7 linked regions of the Homo sapiens genome follow. The protein of the gene in region 1 interacts with the protein of each later gene in a biochemical or structural test. Each region holds a gene or a part of one and is shown in the gene's direction. Other genes may lie near its edges. The genes, in order: LRRK2, BAG2, STK3, NDUFAF7, RAD51AP1, ZFAND5 and CDC42EP3.

Region 1 (3,500 bases):
GAAAGCAGAGGAAGGTATGTTTTGATACAACTTACAAATGCTTTTAAGTGATCCTTCAATACTTATGAAGTGACTTTTAATAAATGTAAATATTCTTATCCATAAGGGATGAGTTGAAAAATAGTATATTCAATTATAGGGACAGTTCAGAAAACTGAATTATATTTATTACCAATAAAATCTTGTATTCTAGATTCAGAAAATGTTGATTTGAGGGTTTGAATGCTGGCTTATTGAGCAACATAACCTCATCTGTGAAACCGGAATACCAACCACATCTATCTCATAGAACTGTTATAAAGATTCAAATAGACAATACATGGACCTAATTTACCAACATGTCTGCCATATAATAACAGCTGCAGCTTCATGAATGTGGCAAAAGCAGAGAGTAGATAACTTTCTAGTCAGATGTCTGGTAGTCTGCAGCAGTTCAGAATTCTACAAGTGAACGTAGGAATAAGTTTTTAAAATTCCAAGTAGATAGATACTAAGTGAATCTTTAAAATGTTCTCAAATTTCCTAGAGAAATATAGGATTGGTTAGAAAGGGAGGGATTAGAAATTATAGAAAATATTCCATTATTTTTTCACATCAAAACCACAAATTTATGTATCTCCTTAAATGTTGTTTTTATTTAAAAAATGTTTTATTACTTCTCAGGAGATCTCTTAGTAAATCCAGATCAACCAAGGCTCACCATTCCAATATCTCAGATTGCCCCTGACTTGATTTTGGCTGACCTGCCTAGAAATATTATGTTGAATAATGATGAGTTGGAATTTGAACAAGCTCCAGAGTTTCTCCTAGGTAATTCTTTTTGTTAATTTGAGAATAAAAATTAGGATGTAATTTTCTCCTTATAATTTAGAAAATAGATTTCATAATTATATTGTCATAGATTTTACTGTCTTCATATATTTGTTATAATTTTTGTATTTGGAATGATATATTTTAAAGGAATATAATATTACAGATCTGGAATTTGTTTTGCACATAATCATGTAGACTAGGATCAAGATGAGGATGAGATTATCATGGAAGCAGAAATATTTATGAAATATATCTTTGTATTTGCCTTAATTGCCAGGGATATGGGAGGCAAATAAGACAGTTTTCAGGTGAGTTAAGTGAAGCAGCCATATTTTATAAAATGACAGAATAGGTAAAGGAAGCACACCTCAGTGTAGCCATAGCAGGGGTTTTATGACTCAGTGTGACAATGCTGAATTCTCATAGAAATATTCATTAAAAGCCTTGAAATTAAAGTCAAAAGTGTTACATGGTGACATACTCAAATACTTTTTTTTTTTTTTTTGATATGCTGAACAATTTACATTTCTTGGTTCCGTGAATTCAATCAGTGATTTTCAGTAGAGTATGATGGAAATCATTGAATTCATGTAGCATGTTTAGGTGCTCATTGAGAAAAGGTGAAGTCATGGTAACCATGTTTCAATATTCTCATTTGTATCTTGACTTCCTGCACATGGATTTTTGGGCCTAAAAGATGTTTTTAAAACATGCTCATACACTTCAGAAGATGAAAAGTGTATGCATTATAACTACTTTGGGAAAGAAACAGTCAACATATGTTACTGTATGTCATTCTGTAGATTACATGTGTGGTTTCTCATGTCTCTCAGAATAAAAGCTAATGTCTTTACAAGACCTGCGATGCTGTGATCTGTCTGGCTCCTCGGTTATCATTTTTAAAAAAAGATATACTTTGTACAAATTTTTTTAATTGACAAGTAAAAATTGTATATATTTATGGTGTACAACATGATGTTTTGATATATGTATATGTTGTGGAATGGAGAAGTTTAGCTATTTAACATATACATTATCTCAAATATTTATGTGGTGAGAACTATTAAAATCTACTCTCATAGCAATTTACAAGTATACAGTATGTTATTATTAACTGTAGGCTGACATACTCAAGTTTTAAACATTCCTGAGAGTCATTGGGACAACTATGAAATGCATTAGATTGATTTAATATAAAGCATTTGAAGACAATTTTGACCTTACTTTGTTTAGTTTTTGTTGTTGTTGTGTGTATACATTTAATTTTAATCAAATTACCCCAGAAATAATGCCTAAGATCTGTCAGTCAGGACATAATATTATTAGCAAAAAGTTGTCCAAAATTTGAGACATGATATTTAAAGCTAAATAAACTCCTTTATACCCCTCTTATTGGCATTGATTGGGAAGTTTAGGTTGAATTTAAATGCTTTGGAACTCAGGAAGTTAATGTATTAGTAATAGTGGGTTAACATAAAATGCTGAATTGTCCTTGCTGAATCCTACATCTTAACCCCAGACTTCAAGGTATACAGGAAAGTACCAGACATGGTGCATCCTTCCTCTGAAGAAATCCCAAACTGTCAGACACAGATCCCTAAAATATTTCTTTTTCCTGCATTAAAATGTGTTTCAGATGAATGGACACGTTTTGAGTAGTGTATGTGGAAACGTCATTTACAAAGTCTGTTTAGTTGGCCAGGTGTAGTAGCTCACTCCTGTAATCCCAGCACTTTGGGAGGCCGAGGTGGGTGTATCACGAGGTCAGGAGTTGAAGACCAGCCTGACCAAGATGGTGAAACCTCATCTCTACTAAAAATACAAAAAAATTAACTGGGTGTGGTGGTGGGCATCTGTAATCTCAGCTACTCGGGAGGCTGAGGCAGAGAATTGCTTGAACCTGGGAGGCGGAGGTTGCAGTGAGCCGAGGTTGTGCCACTGCACTCCAGCCTAGGCGACAGAGCGTCTCAAAACAAAACAAAACAAAAAACAAAAAAGCAAAGTCTGTTTAGCTACCCATATAGGAAAATGTTTGTGATTACTCTCCCTTCTCTAGACCCATGTCCCATAAATCCATAAATCCCATGTTCATTTACAGAAAGCAGTCTAGATAGGAGTTTCTCAGTCTTTGAGCTGTTGCCATTTTGGCTTGGATAACTAACTCTTTCTTATCGAGGGTCATCCTGTGCACTGCAGAATGTTTGGCAGCATCTCTGTCTATCCACTAGATGTCAGTAGTATCTCCCCTTCCCTCAGATGTGACAATCAAAAATGTCTCCGGATGTTGCCAAAGATAAGGGGTGGGGTTGAATACCAGTGATTTAAACAAATTAGGTGTATCCTTCTAAAAACATTTTACAGGTAGCGACTCCAGCATCTTTATATTAGAGTAATCTGGAGAAGGTTATGCCTCTCTCAATTTTCCCTCTTTCCATTTTTATTTGTAGGGCAGCAATGCATTCAGGCTTTTGGTAACTCTTTTTCCCAAGATAGCAGTAACTATTATGCAGTGAGTAATACGACCCACCTTAATAGATATGAATAGACTTGTTTTGTGAATATATTTTAAAATATAAATGTATGGGATTCTGTTCATGCGTCTGAGAAGCCACAGGGTACATTTCCTCTTTGTGGAGCTATTTATTTTTCTGGAGAGCCAAGACAGGTATTTCCACTTCAGTGGTGTG
Region 2 (3,500 bases), on another chromosome or scaffold:
CCAGCATGCTCTCTACCCCAAGCCCCTGGCTAGGAGAGATAGGAAAAAGCCTGCAAGCTCAGAAAAGCTGGCCCCAAGCAGTAAGGCCATGTGTTTTATCCCAGGTTCACAGTCCTAACTTCAGTTCCTCACAAGTTACTGGACTGCAAGAGATTAAAAAAGCAGAGGAAGAGGGTGAGAGAGTGGAAGCAGAGAAGTAGAGACCAAAAAAAAAAAAAAAAAAAAGATGAATTGAGGTACAACATAAAGAGAAGGGACAAAATGCAGAGAAAATGAGGAAACTTGTAGGACCAATAAAAGGCATGAATGTAAAAATGTGCTGTCATTTTCTTTTTTCTTTTTTTGAGATGGAGTTTTACTCGTCACCCAGGCTGGAGTGCAATGGCGCGATCTTGGCTCACTGCAACCTCTGCCTCCTGGGTTGAAGCGATTCTCCTGCCTCAGCCTCCCGAGTAGCTGGGATTACAGGCACGTGCCACCACGCCTGGCTAATTTTTATATTTTTAGTAAAGACAGGGTTTCACCATGTTGGCCAAGCTGGTCTCAAACTCCTGACCTCAGGTGATCCGCCTGCCTCAGCCTCCCAAAGTGCTGGGATTACAGGCATGTGACATCTGCCTAACCTGTGCTGTCATTTTCATGTGAAGAACATGAAATAGGAATAGGTCACTTCTGATTTTCTTTTATTGGCACTGGACTTCCTACTTGGGCTCCTTTGGTGCCACACAGGCCACATGGTACTGGGCCAAGTGGCTGGTGAGGTAAGTAAGCAACCTAAATCCAGATCAAAACTGTTACACATCTATAGGTAGGCCATGATCTAGTCTCTACGCTATCCTGCCCAAAGATCAATGAATTAGGAAGTTACAGAAGCAGGAGCTTGCTGACTTTCTCATATAAATAATGAAATGTTGATAGAGCTCCTCGTGCTGGCCAAGACTTTAGACCACTGTCCTGCTTCTATCTGGAGAAGGATGAAGTCAGTGCCTAGTATTGACGACAGAAGACAGCTTATCTTCTATCGTGGCTACATTTTCTCAACCAAAATTTGGGGCATTGTATTCTGATAAATGCACATGTCGTTCTGGAGAGATCTGGGACATCTGATCTCTGGAGCTCTACCCAGCATAAACCCTATATGTGCTTACTGCTCACAGTGTTAAGACTTGATCTCCATCCCAGTTACAAATGCATACCTACCCAAACTTTTGCAGACATGCCAATTTGAGAAGTCATCTGGTATCCCATATATGCAGATTGTCAGGAAGTGGTATTCTACAACCTCTTTCTGTAATCTAATACATTTCATCAGTTAATCTTACATGCTATAGTTTCAGCTTTTATCTCTAAAAAAATTTCATGGCAGAGGTAAAGAAAATAATAAATTTAGTCACAAACAAATGCCTTAATGTTTTTGACACAGATAAGTTTACATCTCATATTGATTTTTAGGAGAAAGAGAAGAATTAAATCTGACTGCAAACCGTTTGATGGGAAGAACTCTCACCGTTGAAGTGTCAGTAGAAACAATTAGAAACCCCCAGCAGCAAGAATCCCTAAAGCATGCCACAAGGATTATTGATGAGGTGGTCAATAAGTTTCTGGATGATTTGGGAAATGCCAAGAGTCATTTAATGTCGCTCTACAGTGCATGTTCATCTGAGGTGCCACATGGGCCAGTTGATCAGAAGTTTCAATCCATAGTAATTGGCTGTGCTCTTGAAGATCAGAAGAAAATTAAGAGAAGATTAGAGACTCTGCTTAGAAATATTGAAAACTCTGACAAGGCCATCAAGCTATTAGAGCATTCTAAAGGAGCTGGTTCCAAAACTCTGCAACAAAATGCTGAAAGCAGATTCAATTAGTCTTCAAACCTAAGAGCATTTACACAATACACAAGGTGTAAAAATGATAAAATACTATTTTAATTGATAACTAGTTCTTTGTTAGGTATAACCACTTAGTTGACACTGATAGTTGTTTCAGATGAGGAAAATATTCCATCAAGTATCTTCAGTTTTGTGAATAACAAAACTAGCAATATTTTAATTATCTATCTAGAGATTTTTTAGATTGAATTCTTGTCTTGTACTAGGATCTAGCATATTTCACTATTCTGTGGATGAATACATAGTTTGTGGGGAAAACAAACGTTCAGCTAGGGGCAAAAAGCATGACTGCTTTTTCCTGTCTGGCATGGAATCACGCAGTCACCTTGGGCATTTAGTTTACTAGAAATTCTTTACCTTAAGCAGCACACACATTTACTACACACACAGTGTTAACAAAGCACTGTGCTTAGAGGGTAAAAAGGAATCACAAAACAAGAATCTTTCCAAAGTTGTCTCATTCAGCAATGTTAAGGCATCTGTATCAAATTATTTTGGATGTAAAGATTCCTGTGTCTCATAATATGAATGTATTTTTTGATATACAAGAAACTGACATAAAATGTGAGAAAACCACCTATAATTTACCACTGTGAACAATTATATATCTATCTGCTTCATCTTTTCTCAAATGCATCAATTCTCTAAAATTCCTATATTGTAACTTGCCTTTTTTTAAAAAAGTTAGATGCTGATATAAAGTCTGCTTAATTGTCAACTTAATGAGCTCTATTTTGTGTAGTTATATCTTTATCCATTCCTCTTTTATGGACATTTAGGTTGTTTCCAACTTGTTGCTATTACTGCAACATATTTTTGTACACAGGACTTTTTCCTTCTTTCATTTTTGTTTTTCTCTGTATAAAGGCCCAGCAGTGAATTATATTGGGTCAAAGGATATAGACGTTTTCATGGCCTCACACATATTAAACTTTTTTTGTATAAAGGTTACAGCAATTTATACTTTTTTCAGTAATTAAAATATAGCTATTTCACTGAAATATTTCCAGCACTGAGCATTAATACCTAGTTTGCATTTTGTTTACTAAAAAGGTTGACCAGTGTGTTGATTCTTCTTTTATCTGATAAAGTGTGAAGCAACTAGAGAACACTTATTTGTTCAAAGTAACTAGTCCTATTGATATACAAAAACCACAACAACTTCCCTGGATACTATTTTGAAATGAACACATCAATTTTTATTTGAATGTAGGTATTCTTCACACTGAAAAACCAAATCAAGATCCAAACTGACTTTATGTATGTATATATCTCTCAATGCAAGCAATATCAAACTTCATTTTCTCTACAAAAATGCCAAGTTAGTCTCTTTATAAAAAGCAGTTACAATCTGAAGACATTCATGTTACTTCCTTTGCCAGCTCCAACTCTGCCTTATTTAAATCTTTGCATTTCATGGGAAACATTAATTCTATCTATGGCAGAGCCACTTGGTTTGTTAGCAGACTGATTTGCTGTCATCAGACTGTGAGATGATTTTTTGTGTGCATCATTTTTTTCTTGACCAGCTTTTTGAAAATTAAGAAATGGATAGTCATGTTTTCTTCAGGTTCTCAAGTATTGTCAGCATCCGTAAATCCCTTCCACTCT
Region 3 (3,500 bases), on another chromosome or scaffold:
CATGATTGTGTGGATGCATTCCATCCTGGGCAACAGAGCAAGACCCTGTCTCAAAAACGTTCATTGGGCTGGGCACGGTGGCTCACGCCTGTAATCCCAGCACTTTGGGAGGCTGAGGTGGGCAGATCATGAGGTCAGGAGATCGAGACCATCCTGGCTAACATGGTGAAACCCTGTCTCTACTAAACAAAATACAAAAAATTAGCCGGGCATGGTGGCGGGCATCTGTAGTCCCAGCTACTTGGGAGGCTGAGGCAGGAGAATCGTGTGAACTTGGGAGGCGGAGCTTGCAGTGAGCCGAGATTGCGCCACCGAACTCCAGCCTGGGCGACAGAGACTCCGTCTCAAAAAAACAACAAAAAAAATTCATTGTTTGCATACATACCGTGAATATCGACATGAAGATTACCTTGAATTTCTGAAAGTACATCATAGGAGTATATCTTGAAAAATGACTCATAGCAAAATGAGAATTACAAAGTGTTAACATTAATGATAATTAGTTTAGGTAGTATTATTTTGAGTTCTGAATTAGTTTATAGATTTATATAATACCAGACATCTTAGTATAGAGGTGAATTGAGTAAATTTTTCAGATGTTTCTGCTATCTTGATACACACACACACACACACACACACACACACACACATTTATAATTTATAATTGGCAGCTAATTTTCTTGACTCTGTTTATGGAACCAAGCCACATAGTCTCCTGTTCTCTGTTGTGTTGCTCTGTTCTTTCTGAAAACTGGCTTTCTTTACTTACTGATCACTACTCATGGCAAAATTGGCATTCGGCCTTTACTTCATTCATTTCCTCATTTATTCATACATTCAGTAATTATTAATTGTTTTCCACATTCCAGATGCTCATTGGTGAATGAAACAGGTGGGTTCTTTGCCCTCATATAACATACACTCTTGTTGTAGCTTGAGCTATGAAAGATATAAGTAGTGTGTAGAGAAAGATGGTGAAACCTGCTTAATAGGGCAGTTGGCAGAGGCTTCTCTGAGAAGGTGATATTTAAGTTGTAACCTGACATTGAGAAGTTATCCATGTGAGTAGCAAGGGAAAAGTATTCCAGGCAGGGGGGAAAGCTATGAGAAGGCCTGGAGGTGGGAAAGAGCTTAATGTGTGGGAGGAATTGAAATGACACCAGTGTGCCTGGATTGGAGAAGAGGACAGTGGCTAGAGATGAGCTCAGAGAGATGGGCACGGATTCAATGATGCCGGCCATGGAAAGGAATTTGGATTTAAGTCAGAGCTCTGTGTGCTGTCATTAAAGGTTTTTAAGCAGTTTATGTTTTTAAAACATCCTTTTGGCTGCTTTGGGTAGAGTAGATTGTAGAGGGTTAAGAATAAAAGAGAAACAAGTTAGGAAACTATTTGAATAGTTTGTGATTTGAGATGGTAGAGTCAGTGGAGATAGAAGTTGAGAGATTTGCGATATTTTGGAGTTATAAATGAAGGACTTGCTGATAGACTAGATGTGGGGAATGAGGGGAAAAAAAGAATCAATCCTGGCTCCTATGTTTTGAATTGAAACAACTTGGGGAATGAGGAAAGACCGGGAGAACAGGTTTGGATATCTATAGTCTCTTTCTTGGAATTTCATAATCCCAAGAAAGTGAATCTGATTGGCCTAAAATGTGATATTAAGTGGTTCCTTTAGAAGAGGAAGTGGGTAGGGAGGAAATGATGCACACTGATTTCTATTTTTTTTTTTTTTTTGAGATGGAGTCTTGCTCTGTCGCCCAGGCTGGAATGCAATGGTGCAATCTTGGCTCACTGCAACCTCCGCCTTATAGGTTCAAGCAATTCTCCTGCCTCAGCCTCCCAAGCCGCTGGGACTACGGGCGTGTGCCACCACACCCAGCTAATTTTTGTATTTTTAGTAGAGATGGGGTTTCACCATATTGGCCTGTCTGGTCTCGAACTACTGACCTCAGGTGATCCACCCACCTCGGCTTCCCAAAGTGCTGGGATTAAAGGCATGAGCCGCCATGCCCGGCCTGATTTCTATTTTTATCCTATTGTTTTCACTCAGTTAGAGTAGAGAATGGAAAACATATCTAGCCGTTTTTAGGTGTTGACATGTTCAGGTGTGCTGGTAACCTGCTATTTTAAAAAAAATCTTTTTATTGCAAAATAAAACATTAGTACAGAACACATGTATGGCTTGGTGAATTATTATAAGGCAGATACCTTTGTAATCACCCCTCAGGTTGAGAAATAGATCACAGTGGCCTTTCCCTATAAGTAATCATTTTCCTGACTTGTGTAGTAATAACCCAAATGTGCATTGCTAGATACTGTAGGTTAGTCTTGATGATTAAGAAATAGTAAGTTTTGGCCAGACACGGTGGCTCACACCTGTAATCCCAGCACTGTGGGAGGCCGAGGTGGGTAGATCACCTGAGGTCAGGAGATCAAGACCAGCCTGACCAACATGGCAAAACCCCATCTCTACTAAAAATACAAAAATTAGCTAGGCATGGTGGCAGGCACCTGTAATCCCAGCTACTCGGGAGGCTGAGGCAGGAGAATCCCTTGAACCCAGGAGGTGGAGGTTGCAGTGAGCTGAGATTGCACCATTGCACTCTAGCCTGGGCAACAAGAGGGAAACACTGTCTCTAGGTTGTGTTTTGTTTGTTTGTTTGTTTGTTTGTTTTTTGAGACAGGATCTTGCCCTGTCACTGAGGCTGGAGTGCAGTAGTGCAATCTCAGCTCACTACAGCCTGACCCTCCTGGGCTCAAGGGATCCTCCTGCCTCAGCCTTCTGAGGAGCTGGGACTATAGGCATTGGCCACCATGCCCAGGTAATTTGTGTATTTGTAGACATGGGGTCTTGCCATGTTGCTTAGGCTGGTCTTGAACTCCTGGGCTCAAGTGGTCTTGCCTTGGCCTCCCCAAGTGTTGGGATTATAGGCATGAGCTACAGCACCCAGCCCAAAAAGCAGTTTTGATATGAGTTGTCACTTTTAATCTTTAGTTTAGTCCTCCATCCTTTTCCTTTTCCTGTTGGAGAACCCAGGTTGTTTGTACTAGTTTCCCAGAGTTGGATTTTGCTGATTGCTTAATATAGGTCAGTTCAACATGTTCCTTTGTCTTCTGTATTTTCTGCAAACGTGCAGCTGGATCCAGAGATGGAGCAGACTCAAGTTCGATCCCTTAGGCATTGTGATATATATATATATATAGATGGGGTTTGGCAAGACCATGGGAATATCATAATGTCTAATTGTCTTTCTTTTTTGTGATGTTAGCGGCTGTGGATGGTTAGTGGGTGTTGCAATATAATGAAATTCTAAATACATCATTTTGCTTTCATTTATTAATTGGAATGTTTTTATAAAAAGTAACTTCCCCTCATCTTCTGTTTAGTTACCCAGTGGTACTGTTGATAAAGGAAAGACAGGATAAATGTTTGATTCTTTCCTTTTATTTACAAGTTTTCAAGATAACGAATTAGTTCCCTGTCTTTCTCCAAAGGTGG
Region 4 (3,500 bases), on another chromosome or scaffold:
GGCCAGGCATGGTGGCTCAATCCTAGCACTTTGAGAGGCCAAGGTGGGCAGATCACAAGGTCAGGAGTTCGAGACCAGCCTGACCAACATAGTGAAACCCCGTCTCTAGTAAAAATACAAAAATTAGCTGGGCATGGTGGTGTGCATCTGTAATCCAGCTACTCAGGAGGCTGAGGCAGGGAATCGCTTGAACCCAGGAGGCAGAGGTTGCAGTGATTGCTGCAGTGATTGATTGCAGAGCTGAGATTGCGCCATTGCACTCCAGCCTGGTGACAGAGCGAGACTCCGTCTCAAAAAAAAAAAAAAGTTTAGGCTGGGCAAAGTGGCTCATGCCTGTAATCGTAGCACTTTGGGGGGCCAAGGTGGGAGGATTGCTTGAGGCCAAGAGTTCAAGACCAACCTGGCCAACAAAGCAAGACCTCGTCTCTTTTTATATTAAAAAAAAAAAAAGCAGAAGGCATAAAGCAAAAGATTAATATTTCATTTCTTACATTAAAATTAAAAACTTCTTGCTCTACAAATAAACTAGCAGCTTTTTGTTCTTCAGAGACCCCATTAAGAGAGTGATTAGACAAGCCACAGAGTGGGAGAAGTTATTTGTAACACGTAACCAACAGAGAACTAGTAGTTAGAATTATTTAAATAACTCCTTTAGGTCAGTAAGAAGACAGATAACTTGAGAAAAATCAGGCCAAAGATGTGAACAAGTCCATTCATAAAAGAGGAAAATACAAACGGCTAAAAAAGCAAAAAAAAAAAAAAAAAGATTAGTCACATTGGTAGTCAGGAAGATGAAAATTAAAATCACAATGAGATACTACTGTAACCCTTGCCAGATTAGAAAAAAAAGCTAAAAGTCTGTCAACACCAAGTATTGGTGAAGATGTGGATTTGTGGATCAATGGCAACTCTCATATACTGCTTGTAAAACTATAATTTAGTACATCCTTTTTTCTTTCTCTTTTTTTTTTTTTTTTTTGAGACACAGTCTCACTTTGTCACTCAGGCTGGAGTGCAGTGGTACGATCTTGGCTCACTGCAACCTCTGCCTCCCAGGTTCAGGCGATTCTTGTCCCTCAGCCTCTTGAGTAGCAGGGATAATAGGCGTGGATCACTACACCCGGCTAATTTTTTTATTTTTAGTAGAGAAGGGGTTTTACCATGCTGGCCAGGCTGATCTTGAACTCTTGGCTTGAAGTGGTCCGCCTGCCTCGGCCTCCCAGAGTGCTGGGATTACAGGCATGAGCCCCCGTACCCAGCCTTGTACAACCTTTTTGAAAAGCTATTGGCCATTATCTATTAACATCAAAGTTTCTTATATTGTATGACCCAGCAATTTTACTGCTAGTGATATACCCTAGAGAAACTAGTGTATATGTGTACCAGGAGACACATACAAGAAGATAGCAGCATTGTATAAAATAGCGGAAAATAACAGCACAAATGCCCATCGGGGGGTAAATGAATCAGTTAATTGTGGTATAGTCATACAGTGGAATACGAAGTACTGCAAGAATGCGTGAAATCACAGTGGAATATAACAGTGTTCAACATGAAACAAGATGTGTGAAAGTAGCAGTTTGCAAGAGTTCGTATCATATGATTGTATTTATATAAAATCCAAAAAATAGTCAACATTAAACAATATGTATTTGGTGATAAAAATATATTTAGTAACATTTATAAAGAAAAGTCAGGGTGTTATTAACTCAAGATTCAGAATGGTGGTGACTTCCAAGGGTAGAGGGAGTCCACAGGGGCTTTGGAGATAAGGTCATGTCCCATTTATGGTAGATATTCTCTCTTGTATCATTGTTTCTATCAGTCTACGTACTATTTTATGAAAACATTAAAAAGGAGGACAGTTGTTTATAGTACCTGATAAGTAATAGTATTTATTAAACTTTTGTAGTTTTTAGTATTTTGGAACTCATTAGTGTTTTTGAGTTTATTTTATATGTACTTGACAATTCAATGTAAAAAACAAACATGGCTGGGCGCAGTGGCCCATGCCTGTAATCGCAGCACTTTGGGAGTTCGAGGCTCCCAAAGTTCAAGATCAGCTTGGGCAATACGGTGAAACTCCATCTCTACAAAAAATACAAAAATTACCCAGTCGTGGTAGCATGCGTCTGTGGTCGAAGCTAGTTGAGGGGCTGAGATGGGAGGATTGCTTGAGCCCAGGAGGTTGAGGCTGCAGTGAGCTGTGATTATGCCTCTGAGTAACAAAGTGAGACCCTGTCTCAAAAAAAAAACCAAAAAACACCAACACATACTCAATATAAATTTAAATTTCTTGATGCTTTATGGTTTTTGCTTTAAATTAGAAATTAAAGGATTTAAAAAATATATAAAATATATAAACATATGACAAATAAGAATCTTGATTATTTGGGTGAAGAAAGAAAACAAAATCACGAATTTAAATTTCCAGGGCTCTATTTTATGTTTTTCAGCAAGGTCATTTGAATATAAAATATTTAATAAGGACCTCAAATCATATTCTCTTGTTCAAGTACTTTAAAAGTTGATTCCAGAGCCCTTAAAATGTATGAAGGATGCTTTTCCAGACTGAGTCATAAGAAGTCCTAAAAGCCAAAGAATTTAAAGGGTTGTAAAGCAAATAGCCAGAGAAGTGTCAGACCTGTTTTATTTTTGATGTTACCTTCTGAAGGAATTTCTCCTGGGAAGTTTTTCCATTTGTATTTCGATCTCAAAACTAAATTTGGAAAAATCATCTTGTTCATATTATCAGTCTGGATGTGCATATTCATATCTCAAAAGTATTAATTGGAGGCAGATCACCAGTAGAAATTAAATTCAAATGAAAAATAATGTTGATACACTTTATGCTTTTGCTATTGATTTTTTAGCCTTAAAAGATTGGTAAAATATTAGTATTTTCCTTTTTCCCTTGCATGTTTACAACAGTGAAAAAATGTGTAGCTAAATATAGATTGAAAATGTGGCAGACCCCCGAGTTAAGCAGTCAGGTTTTCAGTACCATTCAGATTTGGTTCTTTGAGGTTAGAGTTCTCATCATCTCAAAGATGAGATTACTTCCTAGACCTAGAGATGTTATCAAATCAAGGCTGTGTACATTTTATTTCCTTGGTCTTTTTTTAGACTCCATAATCTGAATCATTGTTTTTATCAGATGCCAAATCTTTTATTTTCATTTGTTAATCATAATTTATCATTAGGAAACCAAATTGTGCATTGTTCATTTCTTATTTAGATTATGCTTAATAACTAGTAGGTTAGGATTCTTATAGACTGCTGGAGAGTGGCTTGGGTAAGGAACACATCTCTCTGAAATATTACCTCTATTGTGACATGACTAAATCATTGATGTAAATGATTAGGAAACTTAAAACCTACTTAACACATTGTATTTTTTTTTCTTCTTTTGGTATTTAGGTGTTCACTCAACTTGGATCTGTGCTGAAAAATTGTGACATTTCAGTACATCTGGTAGAGGTAAGCCAAAAATTAAGTGA
Region 5 (2,329 bases), about 36 Mb from region 1:
GACTAAACCTTAAAGTCCTTGGGAGCAGGAGCCATGTTTCTAACCCTAGAGCCTGACACATAATCTCACTGACACATACTCACGAGACACTATTGTGTAATGGTTAGTTACAAGGATGGGATTTTGGAGGAAAATCTGGTTTCTAAGCTTAGATGCTTACTAGCTGTCAGACTACAGGCAGATTGCTTAACGTCTCTGTTTCCTTCTCTGAGAGTGGGGATAGTAATATCTGTATTGGAGTTGTTGTAAAGAGTTAGAGGTAATGTGTGTGATATGCCTACCACACTGCCTGGCATATTAATGCTCATAAAAGATGGCTATTCTTAGGCTCTCAATAAATGTTTGTTGATTAATAAGTTTATTTTTTATATGATTATGTAACTTTATAATTTTTACACATATATGCTAGACTTACTTTTTCTTCCTGCATGACAAACATTTTTACGTATATTTTTCAAATAAGTGACTTCGGTGGACTCTGCTCCAGCTGCCGTCAAATCAGAATCTCAGTCCTTGCCAAAAAAGGTTTCTCTGTCTTCAGATACCACTAGGAAACCATTAGAAATACGCAGTCCTTCAGCTGAAAGCAAGAAACCTAAATGGGTCCCACCAGGTATGGCATATTTATCATCAAGGACAGGAGCTTGGAAAATTATCACTGGTAAATTTTTTTCCTAGTTACAAACATCATGTGTGAGCATTTCCCCATATTATTACATATTCTTCAAAACCAAAGTTCCTGGTTGCTGCATATATTCATTTATTTAACCATTCCTTATTATTGGACATCCAGGTTTATTATTTTTTCAGTGCTATAAATAAGATTGCAATAAGTGCAAATGTCCTTATTTTAGAAATCTCTGGGCATATTACTGATTATTTTCCTAGGATAAAATTTCTAGTAGGAAAATTACAGTGTTAAAGGGTGTAAACATTTGAGATTCCTGAAGTATGTATTTCTGGCAGCAAATCTTTTGCTCAGGACCTGCTGACCTCCACAGTCTGACTGAAGCCTTGGGATCTATATGTGGCAATTCTAGCATTTAACAAATGCCCTAGCAAACTCAACCTCTTGCTTTCACAAATTTCACTTCTCTGTTTTCTTTTGCTCCACAGCCAAGTCTCATGGATCCTTCAAGAATTCTTTGACCTTCACCCTTCTTGACATTACTAAAACCCTAATCCAGGCCCAAATTGTTGCTGCCTTTCCTAACCAGTCCTGTCTTTACTTTCTGTCATCCACCTGCATGAACCGTCCACTTCAGTGAAATTGAAACACTTTTTGTCTCTCAAACATGTTGTATGTATGCCTCTCTCAGGGCCTCTCTTAATCCTCCTCTGCCTGGTGTGTCTTTCTTCATGTGTCCCCTCTCCTTGCCTGAGCCCTTCCAATTCTACTCCTGTTTTTCTTTTGAGGGGCCTCTCTTGATTGGTCCACAGTGCTCACTCCCCTGCTGACTACTATTCATAGATTTAGGCGTGAGCTGTGAGGCTGCATGATTACTTAACTTACAGAGTCTTCATTTCATCATGTGAAATATTGGGAACAACTGTAATCTTTAAAGTCCATTCTGGTTTACAACTTCTAAGATTTTTAATGAGGACTTAAAAACTTTTTGGAGAAGGAAAGGAGGGAAGATTAATTACTTGATGTCATATCATTCAAAGAGTAATACTTAGTATATTTCTAAAAATAATTAATGCTTCCCCAATGAAGGAAATTTAAATGGAGTGATATAACTATAGAAATTTAAAAGTAGCATAATTAAAAAAATACAAGGAAACAGTGGAATGATGGATAAAGAGTTAATGTCATCAAGCACAAAGTGCTTATCAAGTCAGCATGTGACAGTCAGGCAAGTGATGTAAACGAGTGAATTGGGCCCATGCAGTAGACTTGCGTGGGTAGGAATTTTGTTGGACTCAGGAGCGCGTACCCTTTTGAAGGAAGCAGCTGCTACTCAGCTCCATCGTATTGTTTCCATGCAAGATTATGGGCTTGGTATTTCTAGATCTGATTGCTGTTTTCAAGAGAAGCCAGAAATCCAGATTTTAATATGAAATCTGCTAATTTTTGTAAGTTGATTTTTTTTGTTGTTGTTGTTAGCACCATGTGAACCAAAACAATATATCTGAGAGCTAGATTTGGCCCTCAGATTGCCAGTTTGTTACCTATCTTATACAACTGGAGAAGACCACCAAGACCCCAAAAGTAAAATTAGCCAGAGGCATAAATATAACAGTGTCCCCAAGAACTATTAATACAACAAGAAAATATGAAGAGTTTCAGTCTCACTGGTAATTAAGGAAGTGTAAATTAAAATAAAAT
Region 6 (3,500 bases), on another chromosome or scaffold:
GCTAAATTCCAGTTAATATTTAAAGAGACAGTGTCAACTAAATTAATACTGTTGTTAAAAGTAAGTTGTGGATCTTGGTCACTCCACACAAGCTAGATTGTCTTAATATTTGTATGGTGCACTTTTACTTACAAAAGGGAAGATAAAATGTTTTGGGGAATAATTACCAGGGGTCTGGCCAGGTCAAAATTGGTTAGTCCCCTTCTCCCATCTTCTAATTTTGGTAGTTAATACTTGTTAAAACATCGTTTTTTAATAACTCACTAAAAAGTGTATTCTAGTATGTAGTTGGAAAAAATGACTGACCACAAGTTACAGCACACGAATTTTCCTTTAAGCAAATGCTCTCAAATATGCTTTTTGTACATATGCTTATACATGTTTAAGATGACATGAAAACCCTCCACAACTTTATTTTAAAATAATTTTTCTTTAATATGTATTTTCTCATCCAGAGGAAAACTTATTAATAATTTAGCACAGCGTTTTAACAAGACTTTTAGAAAAGCAAATCTTCCTTGGAAACAAATGCTTGCTATGTAAAGCTTTTTCTGGTAACCCAGCATTGAATATTAACCATTACTAAAGGTTATGTGTATATATTGACTTTAATACATTGAATTTGAGCTTGGAACGGTTTTATTATTTTCTGGTATGAGGAAGACAAGCACTTGTTAAAATTAATAGTGCCTTTGGCTGAGAAATCTGGTTCATAATTTGTGTATTGCAGGTTCCTAGGCACTGGCTTTGACATACTCTGAAACTTCAAATGGAGAACGTAAAAGGAGTTTCGTAAACCAGCTGACCCTAAATTCTTAGAGATTTACTTGTTGGTGCCAGGGTAGCAGGAAGGGCTACCAGTTCTCTTTTCAGCCTTATATGAAGATGTTTCAGCATTAAAAAGTACAGATGCTCTGCCTCAGCAGATTTGTCAAATTACTGATGAAGCCCAGATATGTACAGGTGTTTTAAGAAAACTTTATTCATCCAGTTTAAAGAACTACCTATAAATATCAAGACTCAGTGATAATTGTGATTAGCCAATTAAGTAAAAACATTTGAAATGGTCTGCCTGTAGTGCAGCAGAGTGAAAAGTTAAAGATACCAGTTTCCCAAATTGATTAAAACATAACCCTGAGAGCTAACAGACCTTTTCATAAATTGAAACCAAGAATAGTGATAGGTAAAAATACCCTAATAATTGATAAAATTTCTTTTTGGGTTTTTTTTTGGTCCTAAAACAGTTTGCTTTTATAAAGGCAACAAAATATTGATAATTATCTCTGCCCACCCTTTTTAATGATTAACGGAATTTGGGCTTTTGTTAAAACTTGCGTAGCAATTACAACGGTATACCGATGATTATATTAGACTATATTTTGGTGATAACACTAATTTCTGAAATTTCGTTTCATCTATAGCAGAAAAATATGGCTCAGGAGACTAACCAGACCCCGGGGCCCATGCTGTGTAGCACAGGATGTGGCTTTTATGGAAATCCTAGGACAAATGGAATGTGTTCAGTTTGCTACAAAGAACATCTTCAGAGGCAGCAAAATAGTGGCAGAATGAGCCCAATGGGTAAGTTATTTCCAAGGAAAAACACATTTGAAAGAACTGGTGGACAGAAATACAGAACCAAGAATTGGGGCTGAGAATGCTGAAAGCACATGGAGAGAACACCTGATAAGAGCTTGAAATTCAAGCAACAGCCCAAGTGCTTGACATGACTGATCAGGAATGAATGACTATCTACAAGCATCTTATAGCTTTTCAGTTTTCTTTTTTGGGGTTATTTTGTTTCACACTTGTGTTCATTGGATTGACTTTTTAATATTTTTTGTTTGGATACTCAAGTATAGGATTACAGCACAGTGAATGCTTATATCACTAACCTAATTAAATGCAAGTATTTATTACTACGTCTTGATACTAAGTGAGTTTTTGTAGTGTTCATTGGTTCCTTACAAATCCTTTTTTTAAATAGGAACAGCTAGTGGTTCCAACAGTCCTACCTCAGATTCTGCATCTGTACAGAGAGCAGACACTAGCTTAAACAACTGTGAAGGTGCTGCTGGCAGCACATCTGAAAAATCAAGGTAAGATTGAACGTTTCAGAGTTTTTATGATATTACAAAGAAGAAATCAAGATGTCTGTACTGGTCCAATAATAAGTTAATAGATACCCTTGGCTTTGCAATCGAGGATTTCAGTGTCTTTTAATACATGACTCTTAAGTCATTGAGTAAAGATGTGTGTTACTTACACCTGACTCCCTAACCCCCTCAAGGATACTGTGTTGGAAATGCTGTGCTTTTTTATTTCTTTGTAATTGAGGTTTAGGGATTGTCGAGTGAGACTGTAGAATATTATTGGGCCAGACAAGGTGTTTTGGCAGAGCTGCCCTTTTGCCCTTAAACAAGTTACAGGCACAGCTAAAAATCCCTAGCTGGTTGTAAAATATGGTAACCTATACAAAATGCAGCCTCGAGTTCATGAGCCATTTATCAAACTTTTTTCTCAACCATTTGTGCTGGGCATCCAATTTTTTTTTAAACTTTAGATTATCTAGCTCCATTTGCTCATTTTGGAAATATTCTATAATTTAAAGTTGAACTGACAACTTATTCATTGTCTCAAGAAGTACCCTTAACACCTTTAAAAATTGTTTGCTTGAACTCAAATAGAAATGTGCCTGTGGCTGCCTTGCCTGTAACTCAGCAAATGACAGAAATGAGCATTTCAAGAGAGGACAAAATAACTACCCCGAAAACAGAGGTGTCAGAGCCAGGTATGTTTTTCATTTAATACTTGTTCAGTTCTGAATTTGATAGTGCAAGAAATGGCTGGTGGGGGGATTCTTTCCTTCCCATTGAAGGACCAAAGAGGAGGGAGAGCCATAAAATATAGGCCAAGCAAAGAACTACTATCTTTAAAAGTATCTTGAGTATGAGTATCTTGAAGTGTAAAATAGTCATATTTATTCTCAGTTTCTTCTCTGCTCATCCCCTGCACTACCCTTGTGCATAATGGGCAAAGTCTGTAATCTGGAGATTGGATGTGTTAAAAACTTGATGAAGTTAAATTTCAAGGGTATAAGGAATAATTTTATAACCAAAAGCAGTAACTTTAGTTTTGATATTGTCAATGTTGTGGAAAACTTTTAAGTAGAACAACATATTTGAACACTAGAACTTATTTGAAGTACAATATTCCTATCATATTTTGTGGGAGTTTGAAACTCAGTGTGGAAAGGCATTTTGGTTTTCATGAGATATGGTGACTTTGGAAACTTTGCTTATATAGCACAACCAGAAGTGCCCTGATGGTGGAAGAAGACTGACTTGAATTACCTGTACTAGGCCCTAGAACAAAAAGATTTCTGTGCTTTATATAGTGCACGTAGCTTATTTTATCAATTTGTTCTTTTTTGGCAGAGTGCTGATTAAATGCAATATAAAACTTCTGTTGTGAAAAAATACTGTCAGTGGTTATACAGT
Region 7 (3,500 bases), on another chromosome or scaffold:
CTTTATATATATATAAAGGGGAGTTTATTAAGGAATGTTGACTCACATGATCATAAGGTGAAATCCAGTAATAGGCCTAACTTTTAGGTCCGGGGCTACATGTGCAGGTTTGTTACGGAGGTAAACTCATGTCACGGGGTTTTGATGTACAGATCATTTCATCACCTAGGTACTAAGCATAGTACCTGATCATTAGTCTTTCTGATCCTCTCCCTCCTCCCGCCCTTCCCCCTCAATTAGGCCCCAGTGTCTGTTGTTTCCCTCTTTGTGTCCATTTGTTCTCATTTAGCTCCCACTTACAAGTGAGCACATGCGGTATTTGGTTTTCTGCTCCTGCGTCAGTTTGCTAAGACTAATGGCCTCCAACTCCATCCATGTTCCTGATTGACGCAAGTGCCTGCCTAATTAGACTACCGGCTCCTCAAGGATAGGGACTGAATCTCATTTATCTTGTCATTCATCTTTGCTGCAGTAGGACTTAATGACAAAGTGGGCAGTATAGCCCTTGCTATACTATCTGATTCTTTCTGTAGCATATCTCCTCAGTTGTTGTCAGGTCAGAAATCTTTGTCGCTTACTTGCTGTATTAGTCAGGGTTCTCTAGAGGGACAAGACTAACAGGATAGATGTATATATAAAGGGGAGTTTATTAAGGAGTGTTGACTCACATGATCATAAGGTGAAATCCCATAATAGGCTGTCTGCAAGCTGAGGAACAAGGAAGTTAGTCCAAGTCCCAAAACCTCAAAAATAGGGAAGCCAACAGTGCAGCCTTCAGTCTGTGACCAAAGGCCTGAGAGCCTTCTGGCAAACCACTGGTGTAAGTCCAGGTCCAAAAACTGAAGAACTTGGAGTCTGATGTGTGAGGGCAGGAAGCATCCAGCACGGGAGAAAAATGAAGGCCAGAAGACTCAGAAAGTCTAGTCCTTCCACGTTCCTCTGCCTGCTTGTTTTGTTTTGTTTTGTTTTGAGATGGAGTCTCACTCTGTCGCCCAGGCTGGAGTGCAGTGGCGCAGTCTCGGCTCACTGCAAGCTCCGCCTCCCAGGTTCACGCCATTCTCCTGCCTCAGCCTCCCAAGTAGCTGGGACTACAGGCACCCTCCACAACGACCGGCTAATTTTTTGTATGTTTAATAGAGACGGGGCTTCACCGCCTTAGCCAGGATGGTTTCCATCTCCTGATCTCATGATCTGCCCGCCTCAGCCTCCCAAAGTGCTGGGATTACAGGCATGAGCCACCGCGCCCGGCCTCCTCTGCCTGCTTTTATCCTAGCCACGCTGGCAGCTGATTAGATGGTGCCCACCCAGATTGAGGATGGGTCTGTGTCTCCCAATTCACCGACTCAAATGTTAATCTCCTTTGGCAACACCCTCACAGACACACCCAGGAACAATACTTTGCATCCTTCCATCAAGTCGACACTCAGTATTAACCACCACACTAGCTTATTTTTAAGTCCTGCTGTAGTAAAGTTACTCCTTCCCAGGCTACAGAACATTCAAATGCAAGGGGAGTCACCCCAGTCATTTGGTTGTGGTGATAGAGATCATCTGCGGGCCCTGTGGAAATAGGTCAAGCCCCTGCTGGAACCTTCTCAAGATCTCCGCGGAGAGATTGGCAACCCCCACCAATGCTTTCTCGTGCCCTGGGAGTGACTGAGGCAACTTGGCACCCATGTGTCCACTTAGAGCACAGAGTAAGGGTCCTTGTATTTCCTATTGCTGCCTAGACCTCTCGCCAGCCATTAACGAATAAATAAACATGAGCCATTTATTTATTTGTTATATTAGCGTCAGTCTCTCCACAGTGGAGTGCATCATTGCTGCGGCCTCAACTTCTAGAATAGTGCCTGGCACTTAGTAGGCCCTCCATGGATGTTTGTTGTTGAACACATGAGGGACCAGCCAGGGGCTGGGGAGGCACATGGAAGGTTGGTTTGTTTTTTTTGTTTTGTTTTGTTTTGTTTTGTTTTTGAGACCGAGTTTCACTCACTCAGTTGCCCAGGCCAGAGTGCAGTGGCACAGTCTTGGCTTACTACAACCTCTGCCTCCCGGGTTCAAGAGATTCTCCTGCCTCAGCCTCATGAGTAGCTGGGATTACAGGCACCCGCCACCACACCCAGCTAATTTTTGTATCTTTAGTAGAGACTGGCTTTCACCGTGTTGGCCAGACTGGTCACGAACTCCTAACCTCAGGCGATCCGCCCGCCTCGGCCTCCCAAAGTGCTGGGATCACAGGTGTGAGCCACCGCACCTGACTGTGAAAGGCTTTCTAAAGCTGGCTTCCCATGGGTTGAACTGGCGAGAGGCACATGGCTCACTCTGTGCATGTCGCAGCACCAACTAGAGCCTGTTTTCTTGCTCTCAGACGGCTTCAGAATGAAATGTCTTCCTAAAGAGTGTTGATTTTTGGCCTTCTATTAAGTTTAGTGTAAGTTTATGCTGGTGATGGGGATTTGTTTTATATTCCTTGTGGGCTCACCCTGGGATGGTGGTGCTTTACTTGCCAGCCTGGGGGAGTGAGGTTCAGAGAGAGGTCTCTCAGGGTGGTGCAGGGAGTAAAGCAGGGACTTCTTTCAAATTCCGTTCTTTTTTCAGAATGGGGAATTAGACTATTGAACCCAGAACATTTGGGAGTTTTTCACACTGTATTTAAAACAATCAGTTTAGGTGGCCAGATCCCAAGGTCTAAAAGGAGTAAGGTTAAAAGGAATCCCCACCATGAGCTTCCAGCTCATCTTCTTCCTTATGCAGCTCCAGCTTTTTGGGGTAATTTATAATGAACATTACCCCTTCCATTGATATGGGCTCATTGCCTGCCAGGTGCTTTGCCAAGCACTTTATGCTCGTTGTTACCCAGGAAGACTCCCACCTTTGCCATTTGCACTTCACAGATGGGGACACTGAAGCTCCCAAAGGGAGTCACTACATGGCTCAGGACCCTTAATTTAATACCAGGAAGGATGGGAAAGGGTGATGAAAATTGTATTCGCTGGTAAAAAGTATTTTGATTCTAAGGCTAGTCTTACTTTCCTTAAAAACATTACTTTTTTTTTTTCTTTTTTGGAAACTTCCTAGACGCTAGATGTTTCTGCAAATAGAATCACAGAGCCCTACCATTTGACAGATGGAAGGGACCTTATCTCAGCCCCAGTCTCATTCTGACATGATAAAACCAAGGCCTTAAGTGTTTAAGTGACACAGAGCATGAATCTTCCTCCTAGGCCCAGCTCTGTCGAACTTTTTTTTAAGCCAAGGAAAAGAAAATCTTAAGCCTGATATATAAACAGATAATAACATAATTTCTTTGGTTAAAAAGGAGAGAGATTGGCCCTACTTATCACGTATTTAAGAAAATAACAACATGCCCTTTTGTTTTTTCTCTTCTCTCATACATCACTAATTCTGGTGGGGTCTGTCCAGAGTCCGTCAGATGGCTATGACTTTTTCAGCCACCTCCTCGTGCTGTCAGCTCCCGGTAGCCTTGCCGTCCAGTTTAT

Evidence for each region.
Region 2: the proteins of LRRK2 (region 1) and BAG2 form a complex in vitro, tested with the Homo sapiens proteins (2 studies listed by BioGRID and IntAct, with this or other methods).
Region 3: of the proteins of LRRK2 (region 1) and STK3, one has a biochemical effect on the other in vitro, tested with the Homo sapiens proteins (one large-scale study listed by BioGRID).
Region 4: the proteins of LRRK2 (region 1) and NDUFAF7 form a complex in vitro, tested with the Homo sapiens proteins (2 studies listed by BioGRID and IntAct, with this or other methods).
Region 5: the proteins of LRRK2 (region 1) and RAD51AP1 form a complex in vitro, tested with the Homo sapiens proteins (one large-scale study listed by BioGRID and IntAct).
Region 6: the proteins of LRRK2 (region 1) and ZFAND5 form a complex in vitro, tested with the Homo sapiens proteins (one large-scale study listed by BioGRID and IntAct).
Region 7: the proteins of LRRK2 (region 1) and CDC42EP3 interact on a protein array, tested with the Homo sapiens proteins (2 studies listed by BioGRID and IntAct, with this or other methods).

What each region holds. Positions count from the first base shown.
Region 1 is NC_000012.12:40,322,497-40,325,996, forward strand, and holds part of LRRK2 (leucine-rich repeat serine/threonine-protein kinase 2), read left to right. Parts: coding exon 1-14; intron 15-663; coding exon 664-810; intron 811-3,500. UniProt on the Homo sapiens protein: Serine/threonine-protein kinase which phosphorylates a broad range of proteins involved in multiple processes such as neuronal plasticity, innate immunity, autophagy, and vesicle trafficking.
Region 2 is NC_000006.12:57,182,326-57,185,825, forward strand, and holds part of BAG2 (BAG family molecular chaperone regulator 2), read left to right. Parts: intron 1-1,452; coding exon 1,453-1,865; 3' UTR 1,866-3,500. UniProt on the Homo sapiens protein: Co-chaperone for HSP70 and HSC70 chaperone proteins. Acts as a nucleotide-exchange factor (NEF) promoting the release of ADP from the HSP70 and HSC70 proteins thereby triggering client/substrate protein release.
Region 3 is NC_000008.11:98,815,689-98,819,188, reverse strand, and holds part of STK3 (serine/threonine-protein kinase 3), read left to right. Parts: intron 1-3,500. UniProt on the Homo sapiens protein: Stress-activated, pro-apoptotic kinase which, following caspase-cleavage, enters the nucleus and induces chromatin condensation followed by internucleosomal DNA fragmentation.
Region 4 is NC_000002.12:37,238,158-37,241,657, forward strand, and holds part of NDUFAF7 (protein arginine methyltransferase NDUFAF7, mitochondrial), read left to right. Parts: intron 1-3,420; coding exon 3,421-3,500. UniProt on the Homo sapiens protein: Arginine methyltransferase involved in the assembly or stability of mitochondrial NADH:ubiquinone oxidoreductase complex (complex I).
Region 5 is NC_000012.12:4,555,890-4,558,218, forward strand, and holds part of RAD51AP1 (RAD51-associated protein 1), read left to right. Parts: intron 1-463; coding exon 464-613; coding exon of another isoform or gene 614-661; intron 662-2,329. UniProt on the Homo sapiens protein: Structure-specific DNA-binding protein involved in DNA repair by promoting RAD51-mediated homologous recombination.
Region 6 is NC_000009.12:72,358,709-72,362,208, reverse strand, and holds part of ZFAND5 (AN1-type zinc finger protein 5), read left to right. Parts: intron 1-1,421; 5' UTR 1,422-1,430; coding exon 1,431-1,581; intron 1,582-1,987; coding exon 1,988-2,099; intron 2,100-2,687; coding exon 2,688-2,791; intron 2,792-3,500. UniProt on the Homo sapiens protein: Involved in protein degradation via the ubiquitin-proteasome system. May act by anchoring ubiquitinated proteins to the proteasome. Plays a role in ubiquitin-mediated protein degradation during muscle atrophy.
Region 7 is NC_000002.12:37,661,643-37,665,142, reverse strand, and holds part of CDC42EP3 (cdc42 effector protein 3), read left to right. Parts: intron 1-3,500.